3 separate regions of the Homo sapiens genome follow, and regions 2 and 3 are each linked to region 1. Evidence: fine-mapped expression QTL. A gene starts in region 1. Each other region holds a variant in brackets. All regions are shown on one strand. Distances are from middle to middle. Region 1 holds the start of AP5M1 (adaptor related protein complex 5 subunit mu 1). Region 2 has its middle 40 kb from the start of AP5M1. Region 3 overlaps AP5M1 (adaptor related protein complex 5 subunit mu 1).

Region 1 (8,456 bases):
TACTCCAGCCAAAATGAATGCTCCCCTTATCTCCAGGGCCTACAACCCTCCCTTTATGTCTTAGCTTTTATTGTCTGCTTTACTGAAAAGTCCCTCCATCCAGTTCCACAAACTCAAATCTAATTTATCCTCTGTAGGTAATTCAAATGCCACCTTCTAATCCTTTCTTTCTTCTAGAGGCAATCTTCCCATCCTCTCAACACCTATGGCACATCTAGACCTCTTTGAAACCATTTATAACCTTATTTTTAAGAGTATAGTATCATATATCCACCTTCTCTCCCTCTATTTGATAAGGACAAGTTCTATACTTAATTCTATTTTCCAAAATATGTACCTTGTAATTCACAAAATTAAGTTAACAAGCAGTAGAAAATAAAAGTCTCTTTAAAAAAGAAAGAAAACAGTCTCATGGTGAAAAAAGTTGGGGAAATGGACTTCTCATCATCTTTAACATATTAAGGTATACCGCAAATCTCCAACGAAACAGACTATGCTCATTTCCATAACTTACTTGGTCACTGAACCCTTTTTTTTTTTTTTTGCGACACATCTCATAGGATTAATATTTCTATGGCATGCCCTTTGAGACATGCAGCCTCGTCAATTTCAGAACTTTATCTTGAACTTAAAAGGTACTCAACAAATATCTGTAGAATGAATGAATAATTAACCCTAGTTACTAACCAAGAACTCTCCCGTAATGGTAGCCCAAACAGAGAAAAGCGAAGATTCTTGAAGAATTATGGGGGAAAAAATTAAGCAAATGAGGAAAGAATGTCCTCAGTAGTACAATAAAAGGAGAGAGGAACATTTGCAACAACATAAAAAGAACTGGCGGGGCACGGTGGCTCACACCTGTAATCCCAGCACCTTGTGGGGCCAAGGTGGGCAGATTGTTTAAGCCCAGGAGATCAAGACCAGCCTGGGCAACATGGTAAAACCTTATTTCTGCAAAAAATTTTTAAAAATCAGCTGGGCATGGAGGCAGGCACCTCTAGTCCCAGCTACTCTGGAGGCTAAGGTGGGCAGATGGATTGTGCCAGGAGGGTAGAGGCTGCAGCGAGCAGTGATTACCCAACTGCACTCCAGCCTATGCGATAGAGCAAGACCCTGTCTCAAAAACAAAGAAAAGGAATTTCTGAGCCCAGCCACTTTGTATATGTAGAAGATACAATTTATCTACACCACATAAGAATCCTTACTCAGAATGTCTATCCTGAGGAGATTTTAAAACACTGTACATGGATCTTTTCAGAAAGATCTGTCAACAAAAGTTGAAACTAAGAAGGTATTCTGAGAAACTTCCAGGATATACACTATTACAATAGCCAAATCATCTATTACTAAATCATTTCGGTCAACTGAGGAAATATATTACAGTTTGATTTTGTTATATGAAGTTGTTTTCATTGAGAGTCATGGGACCAATAAGATTTTAAAAGAAGCAGAGTTAACATAATGAAATGTCATGGATTCAAAAGCTTAATTTTGTTTTCATTTAACTTCTCCTAACATGAAAAGTGAAAGCATAATTCTATTTAACAGTGCATGAAAATCAGGATGCATAAAAACCAAACATCCTTGACTACATCCTGCCTTCCGTTTTCCACAGTTCTCCAGCTGGGACTAAGAAAGGGAAGCAGGAGAAAAAGATACTTCCCGTGACTCTTACTACAACCTAGATGCTATGGCAGTAGTTACAGGAAACTGAGCAGTGACAGGATTTTTTTTCCTCCTCCCTCCAAGGCCAAGAGATCAACTTTTCACTTGGGGATGAAAACTTACTCAAGAGTAGAGTCCACTGTAGGGCTGGATTCATAGCAGTACCAGAAAAGATAAATGCACTTCTTAATTATAACTATTGAAACTTAATTGTAACTATTATGCTTTTAATTATGATGAAGCAACAAGCTACATATAGTCAAGAAAAAAAGTCACGTCAGTTTTAAGATCTATAAATACGTTTAAATTTGTCCTAAAAACCCTCTGGCCTAAGGGTAGTCTAAGGGCTACTGTCTCTATTATCACAGAATCTTACTGGCTACCATGTAACTAGAGTCACTAAATTACATTATATATATGTATGTTATATATACGTTATATATATATATGTGTATGTGTGTGTGTGTATATATATATATATATAAAACGTATATATATACTACTTAACCTAATAGCAGGACCCCAGAAAGCAAAATATATATTTCCCCACCTCCTCCCCTTCCCCGCTAGGGAGAGGGGAAAAAAAAAAATCAAACATATTTCCAAATAAGTTACTGAAATCATGTGGTCAAACATTTAAATAAAAATATACATAAGATGGTCCAAGGTACAACTGGAACTGTCAAGCAGGATTAACTCAAAGGATAATGTCTTATGAACTGTATGACAACATATATAACAGTTTTCAGTTAAGAGCTGGCTTGCCGGCAAATACCTTAATTAAAGATCTCATACAACTTCATCGTTTTCTCCCTTTTTAAGATGTGAAAAATAAAACAAGGAACCACAGCACTACTTAGTACCTAGGGACACAGTAAAAGTTCCTAGCAGGAAAAATGTCTCCCCGTTCTTGTGTCAATAAACAGATGGCACAATTTTGGAATTACAGAAATTAATGTAGCATATCTCCCAACACTTAAGTGAGAAAATACAATATCTCTGAAGTCTTTCTTGTAATTACAATCCTTCATTCACAAATTACTGTCTTATTACAACTTATTATAACAATAACATATATTACTCCTCTCAAAAAAAGCATTATCTATCCAAAAGCTGACTGATATGCAAAATATAGTAACAATAACAAATGTAAATTTCCATTTGTTATTAAAACTGTGGCATTCAAATTGTAAGCCACAAAAACTGCTGAATCTTACGCAGAAAAAGGATACCATTTTCACTTATGGAGAAGTTCCCTATTGTGGATTACAGTCTTCTCAATTATTACACTTTTGTTACTCAATGTGAAACACAAGCACACACACAAAAAAGGGGTCTTTCTTTCCTTTTTCTTATCCGTTTTCATTTCTTTCACACAAGGAGATGCTTTATACGTGTCATTGTTTTGTAGCCTAATTAGAGTTTTCCTATTCTATTATCTCAAACTTTTATCACAGCTTCTTACAACGGACTTCACGAAATTAAATTTTAAGGTTTAGATACTGTAAACGCTCGAGGAAAGACATTAGTATTCTCACTATTACATATTAAGGATTCTCTAGCTTGCAGTTAGGTGATTTTATAATACATGTAAATGCATATAATACACTTAAGGTGCATTATATACATGAAACGAAGTGTTCGTTTTATTTTATAAACTTTTTTTATTTTATAATACACGTAAATGCCTCGAGTGTATTATTATGTATTACATGAAATAAAGTGTTCACTTGAATTTTGCCTCCCTTCAGTCTATCTCTCTTCAGTCGAAAGAGATAAGTAGGCCTTTATTGTCCAAAAAAAAAAAAATTGTCCCAGCCTTTTCAAATGTCAGGTTAAACTGGCAGTCCTATGAATGCCACCTGCAACCTTACTAATGGAATAATTACTCAAAACGAGAAGCCCCCAAGAGTCCCGATCTCAAGTGGCTTCCTCCTATTATTCCCGCGAGGACCCCAGCGACAAGACTCGCCCAACCTGAGGCTCCTGGCTCTCTTTCCTCGTCCTGAGTCAGCCCTTCCCACTACTCATCCGGAGTAGACATCTTCCAACACCCGAACCTTCCAGACTTTCCCTCTTGCCCCCACAAACAAAAGCAACCCTCCTCCCTTGGGACACCCGGCTTCCCCTCTCTGCCGACCGGCCGCCCAGCCCACCTCGGCCCCAAGCACCCCTCCCCCATTTCACGCTCCGCCCGCGCTGACACGGAGCTGCCACCCCAACCCTTCTGTTTCGCACCTCTCTCCCGAGGGCTCCTCCTGGGCAGCCAGCAAACGCCCGCTCCTCGGCCCGCCCACCCAGCTGCCTGCAAACCCCGGGCCTGCCACTCCCTGTAGAGCCGCCGGGGCCCACCTCGAAGAGCTCGGCCGTGGTAGCCATCCCGGCCGGCTGAGAGGCTCGCCCCCCACTGGATGCCGTCTCCGCTTCACATGCTGCGCCTCAGAGGCGCGGCGCACAGGTCTCCGCTCGGCTCGCCAGCTCCGGCTCCGGGCCGCTGCGGGCTCCCCAGCTCCCCACAGATCCCAGGAGGGGCGGGAGAGCGGCCATGAAGCGAAGCCGCAAACGCTTGTCAGCTGCCTCCCGGCGCCGCCCGCGCTGCTCCCATTGTCACCGCCTCATACGCCGGAAGTGGAACTGCGCGCGCCAGGGAGGTTGTCGGGAGGGGCCGGCGAATAAAACGAGCGGCGAAAGAACCGAAAAAAGGCTCGACGCTACCGTGTATGAGGAACTTTGATCCTTGCGGGCCACCATTCCGGAAGTAGAATTTAGAGGAAGAAAATACCGGAGTTGCAGGGTATAGGTAAATTTCTCAAGGTTATAGGTTGGGGTTCTTAGAACTTTTTGTGGTGTGTGTTGGCCTAGAGCGACTCAGAAGCGTTAGTGACTTCACCTAAAAAAGCTAACCTCTCTGCTGAGCGCGACCGGTATGCGGCGCAGGATGAGCCTCAGGGCTTCTGTTAAGAGTCTGTCTGAGAAAGCCGGTCTGCGCTGTTCCTCGGTGGCGACCTTAATTATGAGATGAGCTAATGCTTTACTGACTTAACCATGGCGCAGCGGGCAGTGTGGCTCATAAGCCACGAACCGGGAACTCCACTTTGTGGCACCGTGAGATTCTCCAGGTAAATGCAAATCTGAATCCTCAGGGATGATGGATCAGAAGATCGATGAAGTAGCATAGTTTTGTGGTGCTTCGTGGCCCAGGTTTGCCACGAATAGCTGCGTGACCTTGGGCTAGCCAGTTAACAGACCTCTGTTTCGTCTGTTAAATGGAGATTTTAATAGTCCTACCTTACAGTGTTGTGAGAATTGAGTTGATGACTGGTACATATTATTTACGGTATATGTTTTCTATTAGTATTGTGTTTTAAAATGACCTCCGTCTGCTTAGAATTAAAATGGAGATGACTAAGGGAACGGTAGAAAATTTACTGAGCACTAAACATTTTCAGATTTTTCAACATGCATTGACAAAATCGTTCCAGAACATTTTAACTTATTCTACTGAAAAATCCATGCTAAGTTATATCAGACTTTTATTTTTTTGTTTTTATTTTTTTGAGACGGAGTCTCGCTCTGTTCCCCAGGCTAGAGTGCAGTGGTGCGATCTCCGCTCACTGCAAGCTCCGCCTCCCGGGTTCATGCCGTTCTCCTGCCTCAGCCTCCCGAGTAGCTGGGACTACAGGCACCCGCCACCACGCCCGGCTAATTTTTTGTATTTTTGGTAGAGAGGGGGTTTCACCGTGTTAGCCAGGATAGTCTTGATCTCCTGACCTCGTGATCCGCCCGCCTTGGCTCTCAAAGTGCTGGGATTACAGGCAGGAGCCACCGCGCCCCGCCCAGGCTTTTATTTTTATCTTGTTAATATGTGTCAATGGTAGAAATCATCAGTTTACAGTTCCTAATTGTTGAAGAAAATAGAAACACAAAAAAATGTATTCACTATTTCATATATTGTGTTAAGTTGATCTGGTCCCACTATTAGAATTTGCCCTGTGTAATCAAAATAGCTCTGTTAAGGGAATTGTACAGTAACTCATTGTAAAATGTTGGTGGCAATCGAGTGGGTCTATTTCACCTTTTATTCTCTGGCCATTGATAGTTCTTTTTTGTCACAATTCGTTCTTCCCTGAAGAAAGCTTATAGTGAAGTAGTACCATAGTAGAATTGAGATTGAGGCAGAAAAAAAAGATTTTAATTTTAAATGAAAATTGGTTGGCAATGGGGATATGAAAAATTCCTTCTTTGCAACCTTAACAGTTTTTGTTCCTGAGGGCATCAGAGTTGGAGTTTACCATTTCCCCCCAGGATTTCTGGCTGACACTAACCCCAACATTTGTTGTTGGACCTCAAATACAGGAGATTAATAATATTCTTTAGTACGTGGTTTTACCAGGCGCATCAGTCCGTACAAAGTATCTCTCATTTTACTTATATTCCCTTTGGTTACCTATTTCTAACTGCCGTTCCCTTCCCACTGACAGATAACTCTTAACATCTTCGATGTTACTCTTTTTCATTGTATGCATTTTTCAAATTACATAATTAAGTGTGCTTTAGACTTCACTTCCTAATGTTACATTTGTCACATTTCTCAACACTATTTTAAAGAAACATCCATGATACTTTGTGTTCATCTAAGGCAGCATGTCCAATAGAATTCTCTATGATGATGGAAAGGAGAAATGTTCTTAATCTGTACTGGCTAATACTGTAGCCACTAGCCACAAGTACCTATTGAGCTTTTGAGCTGCAGCTAGCATAACTGAGGAACTCAATTGTTAATTTTGGGTAATGTTAATTGATTTTTATTTAAGTTTAAATAGCCACATGTGGGTAGTTCTACTATGTTGGACAGTGCAAATCTAGGCCATTGTTTCTTCTTGCTCTGTAGTACTCATGGTTCACATCCTACACATTTACCTGTCCCCTTTACCTAGTGATGACCTCTCCCAAATTTGCCTCCAAAGAACACTGCCAAAGTATGCATCCTCAAATCTGTCCATGGGGCATGTCTATGCCGATTTTGACTAAAGACTGCCAAATAATCTGCTCCACAGAATGCTTTCAGCCACCTACGCACTCACTAGCAGCAAGAAGGGGTTCCCGTATCTCCATTCTTTCCTAACATGTAATTTTTGCCAATAAAGAACATCTTATTTTCGTTTGCATTTCTGTATGTAGCAATGATTGTTAGTCCTTTAAGTTTCCTCTACTGTGAATTGCCTGTACATGTCTTGTCCTTTTTTTCTTTGAAAGTTGCTTATTTTTTCCTCTGAATTTGTAGGAGTTTGTTTTGTATTCTTGGTATTAGTCCTATGTCATTTTTAGATAGTACAGATATTTTCTTTAATTTACCATTGTCAATTAACTTTATGTTGCCCTTGGTTAAACAGAAATCACTAATTTTGATGCAATCAAACTAGTTAATTGCTTTTGGGAATTTGTTGAAGTTTTTTCTCACCCATATTTCCCAAAAATATCTTCCTACATTGTCTTCTCTTTATAATTTCATCTGCTACATTTAGGTCTTTAACCCATATGTAGTCCATCTTTGGATATGATGTTAAGTAGGAATCCCATTTCGGTTTTCTCTGTAGTGTGGGTCAGTTTTTCTGACATCATCTTTTAAGCAGTATGTCATGTCTTCATTAATTTGTGAGGCTACTGGTAGTGTTAGTTATGTCCCCTCATATAAATGTTGGTCTGTCTCAGTTCTAGTACTTTGTCTTTCTTGTACCAATACAATATCTGTTGCTTTGTAGCTTATCTTAATATTTCATAGAGGTGAACTTTTTACTGCTTAAGTAAATAAGTTTCTTAAATCCTAGTTTTCAGAATGTTTTTTCACTGTGTTCAGGATATTATTTCAGAATAAAAAGTCAGATATGTTTGGATGGGCTTTTCAATACATTTATGGAGGTAGCAAGTTGTGTTCAAATAATTTAATTCTGTATCATTGAATGACTTAGTTAAATTTTATTATATTTTCAGTTTTCTAACCTCTTGGGGGAGGTGTTAGAGCTACACAGATAGGCACTGACACTTTATAAGTGTCAATAAGTGGCCAATATTTAAGATTTAAGAAGGCAAATGATGTTTTCTCTATCTAAGTACTTATTTCCTATAACAAAACTTGGTTAAGATTCTGGTTTAAAGGTTTGCTTTCCAGATAATAATAGCATCAGCTTACATCTGGCTTAGGTCGGTATCATACCCCATAGTTGTAGGCCCATTTAAGCCTTGAATCCTGTTTTAGAAAAAGCATATAATAAATTAGAAATGATAGGTTGAGTCATCCAACAAAATATTTATTGAACACATATTGGGGTGTTGTGTAAGTTCCCAGATTAACTTATCTTCACAGTCAATTGTGAAATTTTTATACTTAAGAACTTTAATTACCCTCTGGAAAACTAGATAATAAGAGATTGGACTAGAGTTTAGTCCAGAGATCTCTACTATTCATATACAGAGATTTAGAGAAATAAATGGCATTTACCTGCTATGCCATGCCATTACTGGTGTGCTACCTGATTCTTCCCCTTTCTTAATCAAGAAAATGCATCAGAATGTAGGTGATATTTACCTACACATGGGTAACTGCTTTTGGGTTTTTTGTTTGTTTGTTTGCTTGCTTGCTTGCTTGGTGTTTTTCTTTTTGTTTGTTTGTTTTTTGAGATGGAGTCTCACTCTGTTGCCCAGGGTGGAGTGCAGTGTCACAATCTCGGCTCGGCTCGGCTCGGCTCATTGCAACCTCCACCTCCCGGGTTCAAGATTCTCCTGCCTCAGCC
Region 2 (8,481 bases), 40 kb after region 1:
TGCCTAGATTTTGGGAATCACTTCCAAGTCTCTGTGTCCCCACTGAAGTATTAGCGACTTCACGTGCTCTAATATTAGAGGATTCGCTTTTCAGATAGAATGTTGCAAAGTGAGTAAAGCTGAGCAAAAAGGCCAATGGTGCGATTTCTGACATTGACAGTGTTCTGTATTTGGGGCTATAGGGCCTCCATACTGTTAGATACCTTTCAAACTATGCTACATCAGCACCTCCTTATTCATCCTACTCATGTGGTCCATCCACCTTGATAAAGGGACAGCCAAAATTATTACTCGTGATTGCAAACAGGGAATTAGGGCTCATGAGCTTATGGGAGCATCTATCCTCATGAGCACAGGTTATCAAATCTTTTTATAAAGTCACAGGGCTTTTCCATCTTAAAACTAAAACAACACTCCCCCACTCCCCAAGATCCACACAGTGCAAGTAGCTGTGCAATCACAATTATATCTATTTTCAGTTTCTAAATCTGAAAAATGTGGAAGCAAGACGATTAGATTATCTGTTTTTTTATCCATCTCTTTTTAAATCTTTTAAAAAGTCAACCTCTTTTTTTTAAATTAGATCTCTTTTTAAATTAGTGTAGGTATCAAATTTTATTGTTAGTAGCCATGAGAGATGAGACAAATTAAGAAAAAAGTAATGATGACAATGATGACAGGGTTCATAGTTAAGGAAGTTGAGTTATAAAAATCTTCATCTATAATTTTGGAGGTTGGGTCACAATTTTAAAAATTAATACATTTTACCTATAGATAACTATTTGTTGAACATCTACTATGTGCCAGGCATTATTCTAGTCACTGGAGATCAGCATGAATAGAACAAAATCCCCTGATCTCAAGGAGCTTAACTACAGTAAGATGAGATAGAAAATAAAGATGTAAATAAGTAAAATACATAGTATATGAGGTGGTGATAAATTCTTTGGAGTTAAAAAAAGAGGGGAGGGGTAATCAGGACAAAGAGTCCTAGGAATGGAAGTGGGGTACAATTTTTACAACGTAATGTATAGTGGTCACAAAATGGGGGAGAGCCAGGTAGCAGGGGGCAAAAGTGAACCCTCTAATGATTGGGAAAAGAGAAGCAAGTGCTGTGAAAGGCAAAATCCACACACCGGGAAAAAGAAGTGGCCCAAGCTTAATCATGACAAGGACATCTAGGTGTCACAGGACAGGCAAAGGTATCATTGAGAAGTACTTCTATTTCTCAAACTCAGTATCTTGCTATTTTAAAAGATTTTTTAAAAAAACAACTGTTGTAGTTTCACAAAACACCTAAAGCCTAATTGCAATTGCCAACTACCTTCTGAAACATCAGTGTAAAATCCACAGGTATGAAAGATAATGCTTGAAATATTGTATCCTAAGCAAGACTGTTTCTCAATAAGATAGTCTGCTATTTGACTTTTTTTTTAAGCTTTCTATTAGTAACTATAATTGGAAGTCAGAGGTTGGAAATTTTCAATTCAGGAGATCCACTGAGAGTATTTTGAGCAAAATTATGGGGAGGGGGAACTGCATTCATGAGGTGACTGATCTAGAGTTGCTGAGGCCAACTGCTACCCTGGAAGATGTGGGGTATAAAAGAGAAAGAGGCGTACGTTAGAGCTGCACCATGGTCAAAGTCAGCTCCAAGGAAGAGAAGTTGGGCTTTGTCTAAGAGCTGCTTTGTCTTGCCCAGAGAGATAGGCAGTAGACCACCCACTTTTCAACAGGCTCTGGCTGCAATAAGGGGCAAGAGAAGTAGTGGACTGGTGTGCTCAACATCAGTATTCCATTTAATTGGGTAAAGAAGTTGGACCAAACAAAAGCCCCTTATGTTTTGGATAATGAGAGAAAAGTCCATTATTTGCCCATATTTATCCATATATTTATGATCAATTTGTAGAACAGTTCAGACATGTTACATCTCCAAATTGTATAAATATTCTACCCTACTTCTTAAATTGAGAGGATCTTAAGTAAACTATTTAATTACACCCAAGTAAAGTTTGAACATGGAAATTTTGGCAAAGGAAATGTTGAGAGTATTCATTATCACACATATTTACTTATGCTATACAAATGCATGGTGTTGTAGGCTAATTCTGAACCTAGATAATAATACCTAACATTTGTCAAGCACTTACTATTGATTAATCTCTATGGATTTTCTCTTTTAATCCTCCCCAAAACCGTGGAAGTTTGTTCTACTGGTACCTCCATTTTGCAGAGGAGAAAAATCGGGGCTTGATGAGAGTAGAGCCAAAATGTGAACACAGGGCAGCCTGTCTGGGGAGCCTGATTTCTTCTCCCTCTAATACAAGGCCTGCCAGGAGCAAACCTGACTCTTTGACAGTTGCAATGCCAGGACTTACATCTATTTTTATTCTTCAGTGGTCTTCTTTCTAACGCAAATAACACTAAAGCTGAAGTACTCACATTGATCCAGTTCATCTTTTCCCTAATTAGGTTGGTGTGAACATTTCTCTGCAGATCTTTCACCTTTCTTAACCCTCCCTTCTACTAACAGGGGCATTCAGTTGATGGGTGCTCTCTGGCAAGCCTGCCAATGATGCTTTGTAGCCATCTGTAAAAGAAACTTTTGCCCTGATGCCCTCCGTTTCCACAAGCAAATGACTCAAATTTCAGAGGCAAGAGGTGAGAAAAATGTAAATGGGATTCCTTGAAATGTCTCCTTTAGGTTCAGAGACCATACCTTGCAGGGGCTAATTGTCAGAAAGTTTAATTGTTACCCTGGAACTTGAGCTTCCCTCCTGTGCTGGGGCACACCATGGGTGCTAATAGTGAGGAAATTTGTGGCTCTGCCGTGTTCTCTTCATTAAGCTAATGGAACATTTTCCTCTCATTTTCGCCCTAGGGTGGCTGTAGGAGTACAACCTTATAATTGTTACTCTTACAGTAATTGGAGGTAGTAGGAGTATATATAATCTTACTGTCTTTTCTATGTGATGGTAGTTTATTTATGACCTATTGATAATCTCCAGCCAGCAGCAGAAAACTCAGTGAGTATTACATTAGCATTCCCTCCTAGGAGAGTGACTACTAAACAAAGACTATTATTAACCAAAAGAACATATATGAGGGATGGCCCATCATCCCAAATATAAACTTCATTACTGCAAAGATTGACCCCTCTGCGAATCATGGGCGTTCATTTTTTCTGCTAGAATACATAAAGCCTTAATCTTGACCTTTCTTTAGATATATGACTAGGCTTCATGAATCATTTTGGGAGGCTCTCAAAGTCCACTGCACATTCTTCAATGTGGTAGCGTGTTCTGTTTTGCCATTAAAGTCCTTGGAGTATAATAGGCCAGGAGAAAAGCATCAAAATTCACCATTCAACCCCCTGAATCAGAGCCACTGGGCCATGCTGAGTATAATTTTGGGCCAGCAGGACCCCCCCCAAAAGAAGGACACTGCGATGCCCTTGGAACCTGTTAACCTAAAGACAAATGGGGAGATGTGCTAAGGTACAAACACCTGTACTGCCAAATCTTGACCTCCTGCAGTGTACCTTGATGAATTAACTCTTTTATTGCCATCTATAAGATGGAACATTCTTTAAGACATTGAGTATCCTCTGAAAATTCTCCACAATCCATGTGGTACATTTGGTCTTCCTTACAGAGTAGCTGAAAAGAATGTGCGTGTTGGCAATTTTGCCGCTTAAAATAGTTCCATCCAAGGACTGCCCTTTATTTTTGGATAAACAATCTCTTTCAAGTACAAAGAGCTCATAAGTATAAAAAATTAGGTTGGTATTCATGGGAATATAATATTATATATTCTGCTCTACCAGGATATCAAACATCCAAAAATGTAAGGCTAGACAGGATGCATGGTCAAATATCTGAATTGATAAAACTTAGAAACTTAAAATCAGCATTAATCTAGTATCTAATATGTGGCAAGCACAGTGCTAAGAAAATTCACAGACATTATTTCATTTTCTACTCTGGTGGTAGGCAGAATAATGGTCCCCCAAAGATGTTCATATCCTAGTCACCAAAAACTGTCAATATGTTACCTTACATGGCCGATGTTATTAAGGATTTGATATGAAAGATTATCCTCGATTACCTGGTTGGGCCAGTGTAATCACAAGAGTCATTCTGAAAGGAAGGCACAAGGGTCAGAGTCAGAAAAGAAGATATAACTGTGAGAGACATCAGTGATATGGCCATGAGCCAAGGAATGTAGGCAGCCTCTAGAAACTGGAAAGGGCAAGGAAATGGCTTCTGCCTCTAGAGCC[T/G]CCAGAAATAATGCAGCTCTGCCAACCCATTTTGGACATCTGACCTCCAGAACTGTGAATAATAATTTTGTGTTGTTTTAAGCTACATTTGTGTTCATTTGTATTGCAAATTACACAAAGTGTACAAATGCAAATTGTACAAATGCAGTACAAATTACCACAAACATGGCCACCCAATTGACTAAGTAGGATACTGTCTTAATCCACTTGGGTGGCTGTAACAAACTACTGTAGACTGAGTGGCTTACAAACAGTACAAATTTATTTCTCACAGTTCTGGAGGCTGGGAAGTCCAAGATCAAGATGCCAGCAGATTTGGCATCTGGTGAGGGCTGGCTGCCTGGTCCATAGGCAGACATCTTTTCATGTAACATCATGTGGCAGAAGGGAACAGGAACTCTCTGGGAGTCCCTTTTATAAGGGCACTAATTCCACTCATGCAAAGGTCCCAACTCCCAACACCATCACACTGGAGGTTAGGATTTCAATGTACAGACTTTGTGGAGAGAGATAAACATTCAGTCTATAGCAGACACTAATGCAGCTCCCAACAATTTTATAAAACAAAACTATCATCTCAATTTTAAAGACAGAGAAACTGATATTTCAAGGGTTTCAAGTGGCTTGATTCAGCCTTCAAGAGAGAATTTAGGTACACTCAAAAATAGCCACACCTTATGCATTGTGAGAGGAATCAGTCCTTGAAGCAAATGAGTTTTCCCCAGGTCCTGAAAAAGCTGCAGGATGCATAAACTAGCTAACTCACTGACAGGACATTCATTCTTTTGTCTTCAGTCATCAGACTAGATGACTTTTTAATGAACGTAGCTGAGTTTTTATTTTTGAAAAATCTGTCAAGTTGGTGAACATTAATTCATCATTTCTGAAATCTGAGCTTGCTGTATTGCTTCTTCTTTTCTCTCATCATTTTAGTTTGGGCTTTCAAACAATTTATACCTGAGTGAAATAAACAATCTGTGAGGAAAACGGGCTTACTCTGTTTCCTGGTATGCAAAATAGCAACTTTAATCAGGTAGGGGCCTAGGAAAAGATGTCATATTCTAGTCTCATCTTTGCAGCCTATGTAAATTGCGAGTGTATTTTTGGAGGATTAATGGTCATTTTCCATGCACCTGGCATCTTGCAGCTCCCTGAGTTCTGCAGCAGGTCTTTAATAAAGATCTGAGCCACAGGGTTTTAGAAGGGTTGCTTTAACTTTGAGCCCATTTGGTTCTATAATAGATTTGTGTTCATGGCCCATCACCCCTAGCTTTAGGGAATATCCCTGCCCTTTCTATGTGGTACAAGTGAAGACAAGCTAAATATCCCCATGTGACCTAAGCCTAGCCAATCAAAGTGCTCTACCTTCTGACCATAATGATTGGTTCAGGGATCAGGGATGGGTATGTAGCCTAAGATGATCCAGAGTTCTTTTTTGGACTTTATTACCAAAGAAGAAAGATATTTTCTCTTCCTCCTTGGCAATCTATAATAATAGATTGTAGCCACTGTAGGCATGTGACTCATACATCTTGCAACCATTTTTCCAGAATCTTAGGGGGCAGCATCTGCTGTAAGAGAATGCAGCCAACACCCTCAAACTGAGAGTTGAGAGTTAGAGAGGAAAGAAAACAAAAGCAAAAAAGTCCTAATTTATCCAGCCATGCCTTGTGCAGCTAGTCCTGCTCCTGGACTCTTCAGGTACATAGGGCAATACACCACCCTTTTCAAACTTAAGTTAGTTTGGTATGGATTTGTGATTAAAAGAGAATAGGTTTTTTTGTTTGTTTGTTTGTTTGTTTGTTTTTAAATTTGAGACAGAGTTTCACTCTTGTCGCCTAGGCTGGAGTGCAATGGTGCAATCTCAGCTTATTGCAACCTCCGCCTCCCGGTTCAAGCGATTCCCCTGCCTCAGCCTCCCAGGTAGTTGGGATTACAAGCATGCATCACCATGCCTGGCTAATTTTTTGTATTTTTAGTAGAGACGGGGTTTCACCATGTTGGCCAGGCTTGTCTCAAACTCCTGACCTCAAGTGATCCGCCCGCCTCGGCCTCCCAAATTGCTGGGATTACAGGCATGAGCCACTGCACGTGGCTAAAAATAGAATAATTTTTAATTTAACTTTTCAAAAAGATGATATCATAACTCAAGGAAAAGGTATATAATGAACGCCTTCTCTCCAGTTTGTTCCCATCTGCCCATTTTCTTTTTCTTTTTTGAGACGGAGTCTCGCTCTGTCACCCAGGCTGGACTGCAATGGCGCAATCTCTGCTCACTGCAAACTCCGCCTCCCGGGTTCACGCCATTCTCCTGCCTCAGCCTCCCAAGTTGCTGGGACTACAGGCGCCCACCACCACGCCCGGTTAATTTTTTTTTGTATTTTTAGTACAGACAGGGTTTCACCATGTAAGCCAGGATGGTCTCAATCTCATGACCTCGTGATCCGCCTGCCTCGGCCTCCCAAAGTGCTGGTATTAAGGCGTGAGCCACCGCGCCCGGCCATCTGCCCAGTACCCCACAGGTCGTTCCTAATTTTTAAAACGTAACCTTTTAGATTTTATTCATGCATATACAAGCAAATGGACAAATATGTCTCTATTTTCCTCTATTTTAACACAAAAAGTAGCACACTAGACATTGTTCCTCACCTTGATTTTTTTCACCTAAGAATATATATTGGCAGTCCTTTCCTAACAATGGATAGAGAGCTTCTTCACTCCTATATACAGCTGTACAGCATTGCAAGATCAATTCTGATCAGAGGCAGGGTGCGGTGGCTCACGCCTGTAATCCCAGCACTTTGGGAGGCCAAGGCGGGCAGATCACGAAGTCAGGAGATCGAGACCATCCTGGCTAACACGGTGAAACCCCGTCTCTACTAAAAAATACAAAAAATTAGCTGGGCGTGGTGGCAGGCGCCTGTAGTCCCAGCAACTCGGGAGGCTGAGGCAGGAGAATGGTGTGAACCCGGAAGGTGGAGCTTGCAGTGAGCCGAGATTGTGCCACTGCACTCCAGCCTGGGCGATGGAGTGAAACTCCGTCCCCCCCCCCCAAAAAAAAACAAAAAAATTCAATTCTGATTAGAAGCACTGTGAAAAAGCTGGCGGGTTTTGAGAAATGGAGTCAAAACTCTTTGTGAAAAAATAGTGTAACTCTTATGGCAAACAGCATATAGGATTTTTGGCCCACTTTTTTAGTAAGTCGGAATCTCCCATTTTTGCATCCTGCTAAGCCTAATATTTCCAGAGATGAATATCAATCTTTGGGGCTACATTTGCCATGACAATTGTGAATGGCCCTATATAATCTTGAAAAATGAATCCAGGGCAAATAGAAGACTATGGCACAGGTTGCAAACTGGAGACCTACAACTCAGCCTGCTTCACAAATACATTTTCTTTGGCCTGCACAGTATTTTTTTAAAAAAAGTTTAGCTACTTTTTAATGTTTAAAATGTTTTAATTGGGCTATTTCATATTAACATTTTAATATTTTGTTTTAATATCTTATTTTAAATTTTCATATTAAAAACACAGATTTCTGGTTTCCCTTGACAACTTGGATTGTTCATTTCCACAAAGCAGCAAGAGGTTGAAGTTCAATAGCGAGGACCCTCTTTAAATAGGGTATGCCCTGTTCAGTTCTCCACAGTTCCTGCTGCTTTCTGTGGTCCCTCAACTCTAAGGTCAAGGGCCTTCTGCCATATATTATGTCTCTTGCTCTATTGCTTCTCTTTATTTACACCCAGGTAGCTTCTATGGACATTTGACTGTGTGACATCAAGTTTATTATATTTGAATCCTGGGGGACTTTAACACCCCTTCAAAGGAGAGTTATTTTCACAAGACTATCTTGAAAATGCTCAGGGGGAAAAAAAAGTTTTTCTCTTTTTCATCTTAATTAGTTTTTTGGGTCGAATAGTAAAAGAAAAGAAGAAAAAAATTACTACAGCATGTAGAAATCTCAATACATAAAGTACCTAAGGAAGATTTTTCTTACTCATTCTAACAATTATTACACTATGTTTTTTCCATCTTTGATTTGACCTCAATCATGGGAAAATCAGCATCTTGAATTACTCAGTCTTTCCTAAGGCCAATTCTAAATTTCAGGTTAAAACTGAGTCCTGACAGTGATTCAATTTCATGACTCGAGGGAACATCTTTATATTCCCCATTGTTCCTAGCACAGTCCAGTCCAT
Region 3 (8,443 bases), 22 kb after region 1:
AGCTTCATTTTAGGATCTTAGATTACACACTTACTGGATGTTATGCAGATCAGCATTCAGTTCAAGTTTTTGCATCAGGAAAACCAAAAATAAGTGCACGTAAGTTACACAGATTCAAACTAACTTAAGGGAATTAAAATGGTGTTTGCAGTTATTACCTAAGGTAAAATTTGAATGTAACAGAACTTAGAGATTAGAGAATAATCCCAATTTATAAAATTCTGGGCTGATTCTACCCCACATAACAGTTTGTGTACTTTACACTGCCCTCTGCCGCCTTCTTGTTTATAAAGTGGTCTGGATAAGCAAAGATTGGGATAGAGGGGAACTTCAGTGTAAAATTGGATTTGTTTTTCTCTGGTTATTCAGAGATGTGATTCACAGAGACTGTGATGTTGGACAGACAGGGCTTAAGCCTGGCTCAGCCATTTCATTAGCTGTATAACTTTGGGCAAGTTAGCGAACTTCTTGAAGTTTTAATTTTCTTGTGTATAAAATGGAAATAATAGTGCGATTTACCTCAGGATTGTTATGAGGTTTAGATAAGATTATATTGACTTAGTATGATGCTTAGTGTATAGTATAGATTTAGTAGATACTAGAGATGATTCTTATTTAAAACTTTTAAATATCTTTAGCAAATGTTGCAATCAATAAGCATTATTTAGCACCTTCTCTATTCTATCAATAGGAAGACAATAAAAAAGACGTTTCCTGATTTTAGTATGTTTAATGGTTGGTAAAGTATAGATCTATATGTGTGTACACACACACATACACACACACACACACACACACACACACACGAAACATATGAAAATATGAGACAAAAAACAATTTATAAATGAATCAAAAGTATTTAATTCAGATCAAATAGAAATATGTAACATCGAATAGTAGCTAAAATGAGGTAGAGTTATCTAAACTTAAACAACCTTTTTGCCTCATACATTAAGGAGAATAAAGCTGTTATATATGTGGATAAGAATAATCCCAATTTACACACATTTTTATTATTATAGTTAGATAAATATTTCTTAAACTAAGGATTAGGGTTCCTAAAATAAAAAGAATAGGAAAGGACTCTCCATGTACATTTCAAGAGAATTAGAGAACTCAGAACTACAGAATTCTAAGCAACTATTTGTGCTTGTCAATATAATTTCTACTATGTAATGTAACCAGAATAAACCAGTATTCTTTACTTCCCTAGGCTTGCCCTGTGTTTTCTCTTACATCATTTTTTTGTTGTATATATGAGAGACTGAAAGCAAACAGACCAGTATTTTAGATTGTCTATGGGAAAATAATTTATTTATGTTAACTAAACATACTGCAGTAATTTCCAGAGAACATAATACAAGATAGGAACATACCTGCTTCTTAATACAAAATATGTTGAAAGAACTCATTTTAAATTAATATTATGACCCATCTTTTCTTTCCTCTGTTAGTTTCAGAATGTGACTGCCAGTTTGTGCAATTATGTAAAACTTTATTTTGCCATCATCTTGACAATAAAATCTATTTTCATAATATACAACTTAGTTTAAAAATAGTTTAGTAATAATAATACCAATTTAAATAATAATGGCTAATATTTATTGCTTACTATATGCCAGGCAAAGTTCTAAGTGTTTTATGTGCATTGTCTCATTAATCCTCACAGCACCCTATGTAAGTGTTGTTATCTCCATTTTACAGATGAGGACACTGATGGAACTGAGAGATTAGGGTCCCATAGCTTGCAAATGGCAGAACTGCGAGTCAGATACTCAAGCATTCTGGCTCTGGAATCTGTCCACTTAACAGTATGCTGTCTTGCCTCTCATTGTTACTGCGTTCTCAAACTTTGAAGAGAACAAAAAAGACAATATAGTCTATATTCTTTTCATTATGAAGAAGGGCATGAAGAAGAAAGGTAGAACAGGCTGAATTGGATAATTATATTTAATTGGATATTTAATTATATATATATATAAAGAATTTACATGTGTAACTCCAAATGAACATTATTATCTCAACTTTACATATCAGAAAACTTTAGTTCAAATAGGTTGCCATTTTTGTAGAGTTTCAAAGCTATTTTTAAAAAGGCTTAAATTGATCAGAACTATAATAAGAAACCAGTGAAGCAAACTATTTAGAATGTTGCTAGGAAGTTAGGTGTTAATTTATATCTCTGACACTTTGGGTAAAGAATAGCAAGACCCAGAATCAGGGCTATGGTGATAAGGTTATAGAAGAGAAACCAATGAAAAATTTTTAATGTTTTTGCAGTCAGAGTAATGGTCCATACGAAAAAGATTTTAGAGAAAATGTGAAGATAAAATTGGCAGATTTGGCATAAATGAGAGATATTTCATATAAGGTCAAAGATGGATTCTTCAAATATTTAATGAGTCTATATTTGTAAAATGGTAAAAGTTATAATAAAGTCTTGATAATATGAAATTAAAATGAATATTTCAAAGTATTGACTTGAAATAACTGCATTCCACAATTTCAAAAATCATGACTTTGCTCTCGTTGAATTTTTGCTGAAATAGTCTTATCATTAATTTCTTTTTCTTTTCTTTAGACCGGAAACTAATTTCTTCTGATTATTACATCTGGAATTCTAAAGCCCCTGCTCCAGTAACATATGGATCATTATTATTGTAATAGTCTCATGTTTAAATGGGATTATATAATGATAACAGTTTAAAGAAAATCATAATCTTATATTTTTAATGTGGATGCATATAACCTGTGAGTGAAAAATCACTGAATGATTTAATTGTAAAAGTAGTCTTATGTGGTGTTTGTAGTCTGATAGAGCTTGAAAGGACATTTTAAAAGCTAATGTCTCCAATTTTGTTAACCTTCGATTTTATGCCAGTATAATTCAGAACATAGAAAAGTAATGATTCACTTGGGCTCATTTTAGACTGGTCCTGGGTCACCCTGCCACACTTGTTTCCTAGTGTTTCTGTGGCAGACATTGCTAATCAATTACAGCCCTTTTCTGTACTGAGCCTTGGATAAAGGGTCAGGCTCCTTTTTAGTTCAGAGATTCAGGCAGCCACTCCCAGTGGGTTGTAGATAATGTGCAAGATAAAAACTATTTTCTCTTCCAAATCTAAGTACTAAGCTCCTAGTATAAGGTGTTGTTACAGAATACCAGAGACCATGTTAGAGACAACTACATCTCTTCAAAAAACAGCCAACAGAGACAAAGGAAAAGTGTTTAAATAGTAAGCTGTTCTTCTTAATCAGAACTATCCTATTGACTAATAAATAATCTGCATAATTCTACTTAAGGTGTGTAATCTCTGTTCTAGAGTTAGTTTTTAAGTAAGCTTGTTAATCTGCCACTTTGACATTTTGCTTAGGATGTCAGTAGCCATATTAAGATGTGTAGAATACCTTCAGAAGATGATCATAGTGTTTTGTAATCATTTAATGTCTGCAGCCAAATTTTTAAAGGTAATTTAGACCTAATACTGCTCTTGCTGTGTCTTATTAAGTTAAAATTAATGAATGAATTCTGGTAAAAATTCAAAAGGCACTCTGTGAGTAGAGAGTATCATTTAAGCTTATTTTAGTCACATGTAGTATATATCTCCTTAAAGCTGTCACTCTCACTTTCTTACCATTCTCTTGATTTCTTCAGAAACCATCTAGTCATCATCTTTATACTCTACCTGCTTCTGCAATTATATATCATATTATGTTTTCAGAGCAGTTCATTGTCAAGTTGGACTTTAAGTGACCATTCAAGAAAAGATGAAATCTCACGAACCTCAAAACTTCATTCATGTCTTTTTACAAATGAGAAAAAAAAATGCATTAAAGATTAATACTCAATTTGATTATATCTT[G/A]GGTTCTGTTTTTTAATGAGTGTTCTAAGGAAAAGCTTAGAAAAGCTGCTAACTCCTCAGAAGAAAGCATGATAGTTTAAAGGTATAGGGCATATAAATTTAGGATTTGAAATATGATTTTTTAATTAAGGTCAGTCCTACTCATAAACTCATTTTCTGCAAAGCATTATCATGGCATAAGGTTCTATGTTCAAAATTATCCCAAGTAACAAAGAAAAAAAGAATAACTGCCTGACCAGGATTTTAACTTGTTATTCTAGCTTAATCATAGATAATCAGCAGTGAAAACTTTCCTTTTGAAAGAAGAAAATATCATTCCCTATAAGTTATTTGATCTCTCTTAAACTCAAAGCTTAACATTTCACTTATGTTGATAAGTTAATGGTAATGGAGCCATTTGGAATCTTGATTGTATAAATGTTTACCAAATACACTAAGGTAAGCAAGAGGCATTTATCTAGTGAGTAGGCAAAGATTTAATATAATAATCCCCTAGGCAAAAGTTTATAAGCAGTTAGAAAAATCAGTGAATCTTCTATTTGACATTTCTAGAAACCGGAGGAAAATCTAGGGTGTCCTGGAAAAGTGATGAGGTGTTGGGGAACCTGATGCCATCTGTTGCCATTCCATTCTAACATAGTGCTACAGAACTGAACCAACTTAGGTTTTCATCCCATTGAGATCAGCTGGGCACACTGTGATGCTTTTGATTTTGTCTAGAAACCTGTCACTTCAGGATAATTTCTGAAGACAAAGTCTGTTTCCCGTTTGGTAGGTGACCTGTTTAATGTTTTCCCTGTGTCTGGGAACTCCTTAGTGTAATTAGCGACCTTTGAACTCCACAACTAATCCTGAGCTATTTTGTATTCCTTACTCATCTTTAAGGCTGGACCTTTCCTTTCTTCAGAGTCCGTTGCCACAATTAAAGAAGAAACAGCTGCATTTCAAAGGGATTCCGATTCCAGAAGCTTAATCGTGATTGACATGTTCTTATTCTAAGCTATAAGACACTCTAAGAGTCCTTTCTTGGGTTAAAACTTCAATCATTTTCTAAAAAATTATCTCACTATGGATTTTATTCATTTTCTTTGATAACTATTCTTTGCATTTTTTAACTTGAAAGATGCTTTGCGTTTGCAGTGAATATGAGCAACTACTTCCAGTGAAAGATTTGGATAGTGTCAGACCTTCTCTAGATGCAAAATTGCTAAATTCCCTTTTAGTGCCAAAATATGATTATGAAATCTGATGTCTATCACATAGGTAATTATTCTTCAATAAACTCGAAAGGTTAAAAAAAAAAGTGTTAATTTTTTAGAATGAACTCCAGAAAAGATCGTTCATGATTTTGTAAACGCTTCTTTTCTCCATTTTTTACTAAACAATATTTTAAAAACTTTTTAGAGCCAGCAATATAGTACTTAGGCAATACCCTTACGGTGGTGGCAATTTTTTTTTAACTTTTTAAGTAATTGATTCAAATGTCAAGTTTGAAGCAGTCTTGTCAGGAATTCTGATGACAATTATTTGTTTAAAAAATTTTTTTTATTAAACATTAGTCTGTCCCATAAAATCGTTTTCATTTTTTTCACACCAATTCAGTATTTCTACTAGGTTAAAATTATGGTGTTTTTATACATTGTATGATTTAAGATCTTTCAAGGCAGACATTTATACTTGGTAACAATTGCCAATTTTTTTTTCTGGTTTTTGTTGTAGTATTTCAAAATACTTCGTAGACATTGATAGACTCCTACACTACCCCTGGGAGCTAGGTAGGTGGAATTATCATCCAGGCCTTCTGTAGGGACTGCTGCCACAACAGAGTGGTTGTTCCTAAGACAAAGGTCAAAAAAAGGGGTGTTAATAAACAGTCCTCAGGTTTAAGGGACTTTTTTAGGATTACATCTTAAATTCCAACAAATCAGATTTAGGAGTTACTGAAAGTGAAATTGATCCATCCCTCATCCAAACTTTGCAATACTTTCCTGTTCTGACATCATTTAGATAGTTAGCTGTATTATCAGATTAGAAACCATTGTACCAGGCTGCTGAAAGGAAAAGGAGGCAAAAAGCTAAACATGGGATGAATTCTGAACCTTTTAACCTGGCTGAAGTACGTTGGTCCCTGTTATGCAAATACCTTCAATCCTCTGCTAAGTTCAGTGGAAATAATTTTCTTGAATGACAGGTTTATTCAGCAAGGATTCAGTTGGTGATTAATCCCCCTTTGATCTAGGGTATTTCACTTAACTACCAGTTACCTCGTTCTGACAAAGTGCAACTGAGATTAGGGAGATCACTAGAACACTACCAGGGTGTGCGTTTATTCTCTATAACCTTTTAAAGCAAGGGCCAAGAATGCAATTTATTTTCAGTATTTGAAGATGTAAAGTCCTGTCTGCTAAGTTAGAAAGTCAATTGAATACCAAATGAAGTTTATTTCTTACGTAATAGAACAAACATTTCTTTTTGCTTCGCCTAACAATGATATTAGGAAACATAGGCTTTGAAGAAAGAAGAAACAAAGACTACATTCTAAGTATTGCTTCTAGTTTTGTTTCATGCACTAGGGTATACTTAACTGGCCTTGACATAACCAAAAATCAAAGCAGTGGCTACAACTTAGACTGAGAAAATGCTTCTGTTTTATTAAGCTGCATGGTTTCTTCTCACCTTTCCCCCTACCACCACCACCACCATTAGAAAATGTCATACTGTGTGGTAAAGAAATCCAGTTGAGGAAAATGTGTTGCAGTACACAGTTATCCACCTTAAGACTAATGATTTCGAAGCTTTGTTAACTATTTCTTTTCTTGAGGCAAAGGAGCTTCTTGTGTTTCCATTATAAGAATAATTGCATTCATTTTCAGAATGCTTTTTTAAAAAAAAAAAGTGACAGCATTACCAAAATAGCCGAGTAATTAAATTTTTTCTGCCTGCCTTTTTCTCAGTTATCTGAGTACCTCTTCTTCCATAATTTTAAATTTTGAAATATTATATGGAATTTTGCACAGTATTTTGAGAAAGAAAAGGTAATGTTTCATGGTAGGTTTCTCAATTTGCTGTTTAAAACTGTTTCAATAGCAATGTCAGTCTTTATCTTGTAAGATGTCAAATCGGGATTTATTCCTCCAGTATATTTTAAGACCTTTAAAAAAAAAGTATAGTGATTTGTTACAAAATATGTTTTTAAAGATTAGATTTTGATTAATGATTTAGTTATATACAGCATTTTAATGCTTAGTAATTACTGTTCTAGTAGCATTTTGCAATACAAGGGATGTATTTAGATTATTATACTTTTTTTGGCTCAGACTTTTTGTGATCTAATTTATAAATTGAAACAATGACTCAAAGAAGTGCATACCTAACTTACGTTTGTGCCAAGCCAGCCTCCTCTAGTTTCAATTTAATAACTAGTTTCAAAATATATTTTGATAGCAAGTTCCTAAACCACAGCAGAATTGCGGATCAGGAAAAATACAAGATAACGGCATTCTATAAAGATAGAGGGCAGGTTCCCATGGCTATGTTGCTAAGAAACTAGTGTTTTTAATCATTACACTCCGTGCAGTCATATTTAATCAATAAAACAGGATATATTTTGAAATTCACCATCACAGAATATATATATATATACACACAACATATATATACAAGTATATGAATTTACGTAAATGTGTACAACACTAGTGTGTCTGACTTGGTGGGTTTCCCTGTGAAACATGTCAGTATCATGTAAGATGAAGAATATTTTAAGGGCAAATATTCAAATATCTTTCCTCCAAACACAGTATTAGTTAATAGTAATGAAATGATTCATTAAACTGAAAATTGCAAAGGAACTCATGAGTTCCTTTGTGATTGAAACAAAGTGATTAAAACTCTTATGACCTGAAGGCTTTCCAACTAGCCTCCAACTGTCCGCACCAGCTGTTTCATGGATATAACATTAGTGTTTGTGTATAGCCTGGAACAATACAAGGCTGTATCTGTATCACTAGCTTCTTGCCTTATAAGCAGGATACTGCAAGGTCTGGTTGATTTCTCTAATGCCCTAGCTAATCTGCCTAATTGACATCAGTGTCATGTTAATGTATGATGCACAAGCATTTACAGATGGACAAATGCTCCACACTAAAAACCACCTGCTGAATTTTTTTTCCAGTAGGATGTGAAATTTTGCACTTCTAATCTGTTGAACATTTAAAGTCAAAACTACATGTTTCCTTTAAATGGCCTCTTTAAATGATATTTTATGTTTATAAATTTTGTTATGAAAAATTTAAAAATTAGTTATTCCTCTTAAATTTTTACTTTTTCCTTCAAAGGACTTGGGTGCCCTCTGCAGGTTATAAAGAGATAATTAGTGACTATATCTATTTTAAAACCCTGTGATTTTTCTCTTTCATACACATAGCCTGCTTACACCCAATTTCAAAGAAAGTGTGAGCTAATTTATTTATATTAACTCTTATTAATTTGCCAGTGGTTGAAGTTGGAGTTTCTTTTCTCCACTGGTTTTATAGGTGTGTTTAGTGTGAAGAATGTGATACCATTGAACTTCCAGACTACTT

Evidence for each region.
Region 2: its variant is fine-mapped to the expression of AP5M1 in whole blood (TOPMed, PIP above 0.99).
Region 3: its variant is fine-mapped to the expression of AP5M1 in whole blood (TOPMed, PIP above 0.99).

The regions. Positions count from the first base shown.
Region 1 is chr14:57,264,605-57,273,060 of GRCh38, forward strand. It overlaps AP5M1 (adaptor related protein complex 5 subunit mu 1), which reads left to right and starts at 4,367. Exons shown (of 8, transcript NM_018229.4): 1 at 4,367-4,784. The coding sequence starts at 4,711. It overlaps EXOC5 (exocyst complex component 5), which reads right to left and starts at 4,301. Exons shown (of 18, transcript NM_006544.4): 1 at 4,018-4,301. The coding sequence starts at 4,044. RefSeq lists a silencer at 3,732-3,791 and enhancers at 4,101-4,684, 4,332-4,531.
Region 2 is chr14:57,304,412-57,312,892 of GRCh38, forward strand. No RefSeq gene overlaps it. Among named protein-coding and RNA genes, the nearest start is that of AP5M1, 40 kb to the left of the region's middle. The variant T/G (reference allele first, on the strand shown) is at 4,280.
Region 3 is chr14:57,286,221-57,294,663 of GRCh38, forward strand. AP5M1 (adaptor related protein complex 5 subunit mu 1) reads left to right here. Exons shown (of 8, transcript NM_018229.4): 7 at 3-99; 8 at 2,582-8,443. The coding sequence ends at 2,664. Among named protein-coding and RNA genes, the nearest start is that of AP5M1, 21 kb to the left of the region's middle. The variant G/A (reference allele first, on the strand shown) is at 3,864.